Linked DNA regions of Homo sapiens. The protein of the gene in region 2 purifies or fractionates together with the protein of the main gene of each other region. This does not show direct contact. Each region holds a gene or a part of one and is shown on either strand. Other genes may lie near its edges. The genes, in order: CCNT1 and CDK14.

What was found.
Region 1: the proteins of CDK14 (region 2) and CCNT1 purify together in Homo sapiens (affinity purification with mass spectrometry, with the first as the bait; one large-scale study listed by BioGRID). This does not show direct contact.

What each region holds. Positions count from the first base shown.
Region 1 is NC_000012.12:48,702,904-48,706,729, forward strand, and holds part of CCNT1 (cyclin-T1), read right to left. Parts: intron 2,994-3,826; coding exon 2,865-2,993; intron 1-2,864. UniProt on the Homo sapiens protein: Regulatory subunit of the cyclin-dependent kinase pair (CDK9/cyclin-T1) complex, also called positive transcription elongation factor B (P-TEFb), which facilitates the transition from abortive to productive elongation by phosphorylating the CTD (C-terminal domain) of the large subunit of RNA polymerase II (RNA Pol II).
Region 2 is NC_000007.14:91,113,503-91,117,328, reverse strand, and holds part of CDK14 (cyclin-dependent kinase 14), read right to left. Parts: intron 1-3,826. UniProt on the Homo sapiens protein: Serine/threonine-protein kinase involved in the control of the eukaryotic cell cycle, whose activity is controlled by an associated cyclin.

The DNA.
Region 1 (3,826 bases), on a different chromosome or scaffold from region 2:
GAAGGCCAAGAGTTCAAGACCAGCCTGGGTAACATGGTAAGACCCCTATCTCTACAAAAAAATAAAAATTAACTGGGAGTGGTGGCACGCAGCTATAGTCCTAGCAACTTGGGAGGCTGAGGTGAAATGATCACCTGCTCTTTATGAGAATCTAATGCCTGATGATCTGTCACTGTCTCCCATCACCCGTAGATGGGACCATCTAGTTGCAGGAAAAGAAGCTCAGGGTGGCCGGGTGCAGTGGCTCACACCTGTAATCCCAGCACTTTGGGAGGCCAAGGCGGGCGGATCACAAGGTCAAGAGATCGAGACCATCCTGGCTACAATCTTGCCACTGCACTCTATCCTGGGCAACAAAACGAGATTCTGTCTCAAAAAAAACAAAGCTGGCTGGACATGGTGGCTCACGCCTATAATCCCAGCACTTTGGGAGGCTGAGGCAGGTGGATAACCTCAGGTCAGGAGTTCGAGACCAGCCTGACCAACATGGAGAAACCCCGTTTCAACTAAAAATACAAAATTAGCCGGGTGTAGTGGCACATGCCTGTAATCCCAGCTACTCGGGAGGCTGAGGCAGGCAAATCGCTTGAACCCAGGAGGGGGAGGTTGCGGTTGGCTGAGATTGCACCATTGCACTCAATCCTGGGCAACAAGAGCAAAACTCCAACTCGAAAAAAAAGTTAAAAAAAAAAAAAATAGTGAAACTACTCATTTAAGGATCCATAATAAAAATGTATAATAATATTTTTCAGCCAGGTGCAGTGGCTCACGCCTGTAATCCCAGCACTTGGGAGGCCAAGGTGGGCGAATTACTTGAGCTCAGGAGGTCGAGAGCAGCCTGGGCAACATGGTGAAACCCCATCTCTACAAAAACTAGCTGGGCATGGTGGCGCACACCTATAGTCCCAGCTACTCGGGATGCTGAGGTCAGGGGGATCACTGAGCCCGGAAGGTCAAGGCCGCGGTGAGCCATGATCACACTACTGGACTCCAGCCAGGGCAACAGAATGAGACCCTGTCTCCAAAAAAAAAAAAAAGAATATTTTTCATAACATTTATAGTGATTTTAAAAGCTAGAAATTATCTAGACTTCTTCATGGAGAATTGTTAAAAATACATACATTCACATATATATCATTAAATACTAGCCAGACATTTTTAAAAAGTAGAGAATCCATCAGATGGGAAAATATTTGGGATATAGTAAGCAAATGAAAACAAACCAGAGACAAAATACATGCACACATAGCTATCTATAGAAAAGAAGCCACAAATAACAGTGGTTCATTAGTATACCTGTGCTTCAGTTGTCTATATAACAGGGGGTCCATGGCCTGTTATGAACTAGGCCACACAGCAGGAGTTGAGCAGCAGGTACGAGTGAGTGAAGCTTCATCTGTATTTATAGCCTCTCCCCACCATACATATTGCCACCTGAGCACTGCCTCTTGTCTGATCAGCAGTGGCATTAGATTCTTATAGGAGCACTTGAACCCTGTGGTGAACTGCCCATGCAAGGGATCTAATTTGCTGCTCTTTATGAGAATCTAATGCCTGATGATCTGTCACTGTCTCCCATCACCCCCAGATGGGACCATCTAGTTGCAGGAAAAGCACCTCAAGGTGGCCGGGCACAGTGGCTCATGCCTGTAATCCCACCACTGTGGGAGGCCAAGGCGGGCAGATCACAAGGTCAAGAGATCGAGACCATTCTGGCTAACATGGTGAAACCCTGTCTCTGCTAAAAATACAAAAATTAGCTGTGTGTGGTGGTGCACACCTGTAGTCCCAGCTACTTAGGAGGCTGAGGCAGGAGAATCGCTTGAAACCGGCAGGTGGAGGTTGCAGTGAGCCGAGATTGCGCCACTGCACTCCAGCCTGGCGACAAGAGCAAGATTCCGTCTCAAAAAAAAAGAGATGCTCAGGGCTCCCACTGATTCTACGTTATGGTGAGTTACGTAATTATTTCATTATGTATAACAATGTAACAATAATAGAAATAAAGTGAACAATAAATGTAATGTGCTTGAATCATCCCAAAACCATCTCCAACCCCACCCCCTGTCCATGTAAAAACTGTCTCCCATGAAACCAGTCCCAGGTGCCAAAAAAGGTCTGGGACCATTGGTCTAGAATATATCTGAGAGATATTTTATTCTTGAATTTTTCTGTATTTTCAAATTTTACTGCAACAAATACAAAACTTTCGCCATAAAATTTATGTGTTTTGTTTTTCAGACAGAGTCCTGGCACTGTTGCCTGCAGTGGTGTGATCATGGCTCACTGCAGCCTCAACATCCCATGCTCAAGCAACCCTCCCACCTCAGTCTCCCAAGTAGCTGGGACTAAAGATGTGAGCCAGCATGCCCAGTTGTTTTTTGTTGTTGTTGTTGTTGTTGTTTTTCTTTTTTTGTAGAAATGGGGTCTCACTTTGTTGCCAGAGCTTGTCTCGAACTGGACTCAAGCAATTCTCCTGCCTCAGCCTCCCAAAGTGCTGGGATTACAGGCATGAGCCACCACATCTGGCTTTTTTTTTTCTTTTTTTTAAATATAGAGACAGGGTCTTGCTATGTTGTCCAGGTTGGTCTTAAACTTCTGGCCTAAAGTGATTCTCCCACCTTACCCTCCCAAAGTGCTAGGATTACAGGTATGGTGAGCCACCATACCTGGCCTGATTTTCTTACTGTTAAGAAAAACACAAACACTAAAATATTCTTTTAACAACACCAATCTAAACTTCAATAAATCGAAGTTATAAAATTAAGTTGCATTGAAATACATAAAGATCCAGGCATGCTTGGGAGTAGGGAAAAAAAAAGAAAGGAAAAAAATTAAGAAAAACAGATGTGTAATTAATCTCCTACCTCACTTCTAGTATCAGGAAGGGATTCCTGAGGATGGAGACAAGTATGTGCTACCTTGATGACATGTTCCAATTTTTTGGGCTGCTCCTCCACTTTAGCTGCTAGAAACAAGGCTGCTGGAGCCACAGACTGAATGGAGAGAAAATAAATCATATTTATTATCAATTTATTCATTCATAGAGTAAGGTAGATCTAAAGAGGAGCTAAGTCTCAAATCAAGTTATTTGCTTGCCTCAACTTTGTCACCTCTTTACCCTTTCCCGCCCCCCCGCTTCTACCATCTTCCCCTCTCCTACCCATTAATCCATCTCCACTTCCAAATACCAATTCTTTGACAAACTGTCATTAAAAGCTGTCTATGGGAGAAGCTACTAGATGTAAGCAGACAGTTTTCTATTTAAAGTGAGATTCTTTATTAAGTTTGTATCAAATCACTCAATACATTTTTTAAGGAGTAAACTGAAATGTCCAGAATACGCAAATCCATATAGAGAAAAAGTTTAGTGGTTGCCAGGAGCTGCGGGGAGAGGAGTATAGGAATAACTGCTAATAGGTGAGGAGTTTTCTGGGGTGATGTAAATGTTCTGCAATTAGACTGTGCTGATGGTTGCACAATTTTGCGCATATACTAAAAACCAGTGAACTATATAATTTAAACAAACGAATTTCATTGTACGTGAATTATATCTCAATTACTTATACATATCGAACCTTTCAAAAATACAAAGCATGGCATTATATGCAAGACATTATTTATAGAAAGCATTAAGAGGGAAAAATTGAAGTCAATATAAAAGTAGATAACAAACTTTATAAAAGATTAAAGCAATATGACATAAATGTAGCCTGGTGATCTTGGAAACTTCAGGAAATAGAACTTTTCTTGAATATTAAGAACATTTCAGTGACTCAAAGATAGTAATGCTAAGAGCTGTATTTCACCAGGAGTCAAAGAAATACAT
Region 2 (3,826 bases):
AGCGTGATAGCAGTGAAGTGAGGAGTGGCGTGCGTGATCCTGGATATACTGTGAAGGTAGCAACAATACGGTCTGTGGAAGAACTGAATGTGGAGTAGAACCAAAAAAAGATGATTAGGGATACCTTCCATCAACTGGAAGAATGATGCTGCTATTTATTGACAACGGTAAGACTAGAGAAGGCGCAAGTTTGAGGGGAAAGATGAGTTCAGTTTTGGTAAGATTAAGTGTGAGAGGCCTACTAGATGGTCAAATGGAAATGTTGAGTGTCAGTTGGATATGCAAGTCAAGTCAGGGAAGACAGGACTGGAGATGGATATTTGAAAACTGCCAGTGTATAGATGATATTTAAATCATGAGATGGGATGAGATCATCTAGGCTCCAGGGAGTCCATGCAGATAGACAGATCTGAGGATTCAGCCCCAGGACACTCTAATGTGAAAGGTCTGGCAGATGAGGAGAAATCAGCAAAGGAGTGTGAACAGGAGACTTTAGTTTTCTAAACTAAAGGAAAGCAATGAGAGAATACTGTCCTGGAAACCAAGCGAAAGAAGTATTAGTAGGAGGAGATGGTTGTCAATTGTGTTGAATCTTCGATAGGCTGGGAAAAGACCAATGGATAGAGACTTCGAAAGCCAGGCGTTGTGGACACAAAAGCCTGGTTGTAAAGGATTCAAAACAGCATGAAAGTCTACGAACTGAAGGTAGCAAATCTTAAATCTGAAATGGGTGCACCTGTTTTATTTTTAAAAAGACAGCATAGAGCTACATTAAGAGCATTATGCTGTTCTAGGATGATATACAGAACATATACAGGAATATGTGGGAAAATCGACAAACTCTAGAGCTAGAAAGGTCCCTGGAGACTACTGTGCCCACCTCACTTGCTCCTTAAGTGAGAAATGGGAAGCTCAGAGAGACCAAGGCACTTGTCCAAAGTTCCCTGGCTAGTTAACAGTGGAGCTGAAGCTGCAATCCAGGTGGTCTGATTCCCAGTTCAGTGCTCTTCACACTGTACCGATTTGTTGGCCTTCTTTCACTGAATTTGAGTTTTGTGAATTAGCAAATGAGTGTAATAAAATCAAGGACTCTGTGCTATGAAGTGTATTTTGTTCATTTACTTTGACAAGGGTAGTTCAGCTTCAATTATTTATGTAACTTGATAGTATATGCAGGAGAATGCCCTGTGGTGTATTTGGGAAAAGTAATGAATTTCTTCTAAATCAGCCCTCCATTTACTTCCCTGCAATTAAATCTTTGAGAAGAAGTGGGACAAAGCTGTTGGGGTTTCAGGACAGAGGGAGAATGACAGGGTGCCACCAGAATTAGCCAGCTTTAACAGCCAGATCCCCAGATAACTGTACCATTATTCTTGCTTTCTGCTTTTATAATTCCTGCTTCAGTGCCACACTAATACATTACCTCTAAATTTTGGTACTATGTAACCTGATGAGGTTTTAAGGAATAGTATACTAAAGAAAGATATTACATTACTATGTATTCTTCCAAAGCCAGAGTCTGACATAAGCCCGTAATTTCACTTTTGTACGAATCTATGAAATGACTGCAGGGCTCTGTGTTACTCAGGCTCCAACCACACTTGATGCCCTTCTCATGGGGTCTGACATATTACACTAGGCCAAGAAGGCTCAAATCTACTTGTAACTTATTTTTGTTCCCATCTTCTCCTTTTAACCTGACTTTGCTTCCTGCTTGCATAAGTGTTTTCCTCTTGTGGAAATTCTTTAGAAAGTGCTATGAGCCATCTTTAAGAATGAGAGTGCTATGGATTGAATTGTGTCCGTCCTCAAATTCATCTGTTGAAGCCCTAACCCCTAATGTGATGGCATTTGGAGATGGGGCCTTAGGAGGGTAATTAGGGTTAGATGAACTCATAAGGGAGGGGCCCTCATGATGAGATTAATGGCTTTGTGAGAAGAGGAAGAGATTGCTCTCTCCACCCTGTGAAGACACAGCAAGGTGCCCTTCACAAACTGAGAAGAAAGACCTTACCAGGAACCGAATCTGCTGGCACCTTTATCTTGGACCTCCCATCCCCAAGAGAAATAAATGTCTGCTGTTTAAGCCACCCAGTCTAAGGTATTTTGTTATTGCAGTGTGACCAAACTAAGACAGCGAGGTTCCTAAACTACAGCTTGGTTGCTAAGACAATCCATTTACTGGTTCTGTAACACTTCTTTCCAGGTGGATCTCCTTCCAAATCTCCTTAAAAAAGAAATACGTAAGGGTATTACAGGTGCTGCTGCTACTGCTGCCACTGCCACTGCTGCCTTTGCCAGATGGTGAACTTTTACAAGACTCTATGCTAATATGAAATTTAATTATAAAAATTTAAAAAACTTCTAAATATACTCTGCAGAATACTAACCTAGATAATAAGTCACCCAAACCAGTCATTTCACTTAAAGAAACCAATTCCCTAAGTCTCCAAAGTCTGGGAATTCTTTGTTTTGTAAACATGTTTACAAGTACAGCCACGTTGTTCTAAATGGAAATGACTATAGTATTTAATACTGGGATTGTCCTTTCTTGCAACTGGATTTATGCCTCATAATGATTATCTTCTAGACACAGAAATAGCATTTCTGTAACTCAAAATTGTTACCGGAGGCATTTAGTAGAATCTTGGTTTAAAAATATAATGATTTTTCATCTTTATTCTCCCCCCTTCAAAAGGTTTCACTGCTCCTGATGTTTAACGTTATGCAAAGACGTGTTTCTGCCAATGAATATCGCCTTACGGTTATGCTTCTGCAAATAGCCTGCTGTGAGCTGATAAAGGGATTAATGCAGCCAAAATTCTTAATCTGTAAAATTACAAATTAAATTCTCATATTAAAAATACCACCCTGAGGTATTTTTTGTGGTTTTAATTCCCCTCTGGTGTTCTGCATACTTTGTGCTTGTTAATGACGGGGACAAGGCTGTCTCCCTTGGCAGTCTGCTGCCGAGTGATAATGTGTAGGCATTTACTCACTGATAGAAACTGGATTTAACCACTGGCTGATAAACTAAGTGGCAAGTGGGTAATAAGTCCATATTAACAGAAAAGTACTACTACAGAATTCAGAATTCATAGACCATCAAAATCCTGGCTTAAACTCAATCTTCAAGTCAGATGGGATTGAGATGTCACCAAGGAGGAGTGATACCAAGTTACAAGTTACACTAAATGGGAAAACAAACCATATGTTTGAGTGTGATGAGCCGTAAACTAGTGAGCCTATTTACAGCATTTTTGTTTTCAGTATAGGAAAATTATTTTCCCATAGGGATTTAATTTTTAATTTAAAAAAAATTGAGGATAGCTGTTGTAATAGTCAGTGAGTAGACTTTAGAAAGGGCAGAGTGTTGAGTAAACATGGGCTGGAAATACGTGAAATGTTAAGGAGGATTTGCTAAGCATTAAGGGGAGTAGTAGATTAATATATCTATAGTGACTTTAGGGTTAAAAAAAAGTAATGAGAAATAAATGTGGGATATCAAAAAAAGATTTAGGATAGAAATACCCAAGAGGAGTTGCACTTAGAACTTAGTTCCAAAATAAAGGGTTATTGCCATCAAGGAGAATCCAATATTATGATGGATGAAAGAAGTCTAAAATCCAAGATAATGAAGAAATAATCATATGTCTACTGTAAGTGATGTATACCAAGGATTAATAAACACATTATAAATATTAATGTATATATGCAGTATGTTCATTTTTAAGGCAATCAGAAAAGAGTATAGAAGAAATATCTCTAATTGTTCTTTGGAAAGAACATATCACCATTGAACAAAAATATTCTGACGGCAATAGTT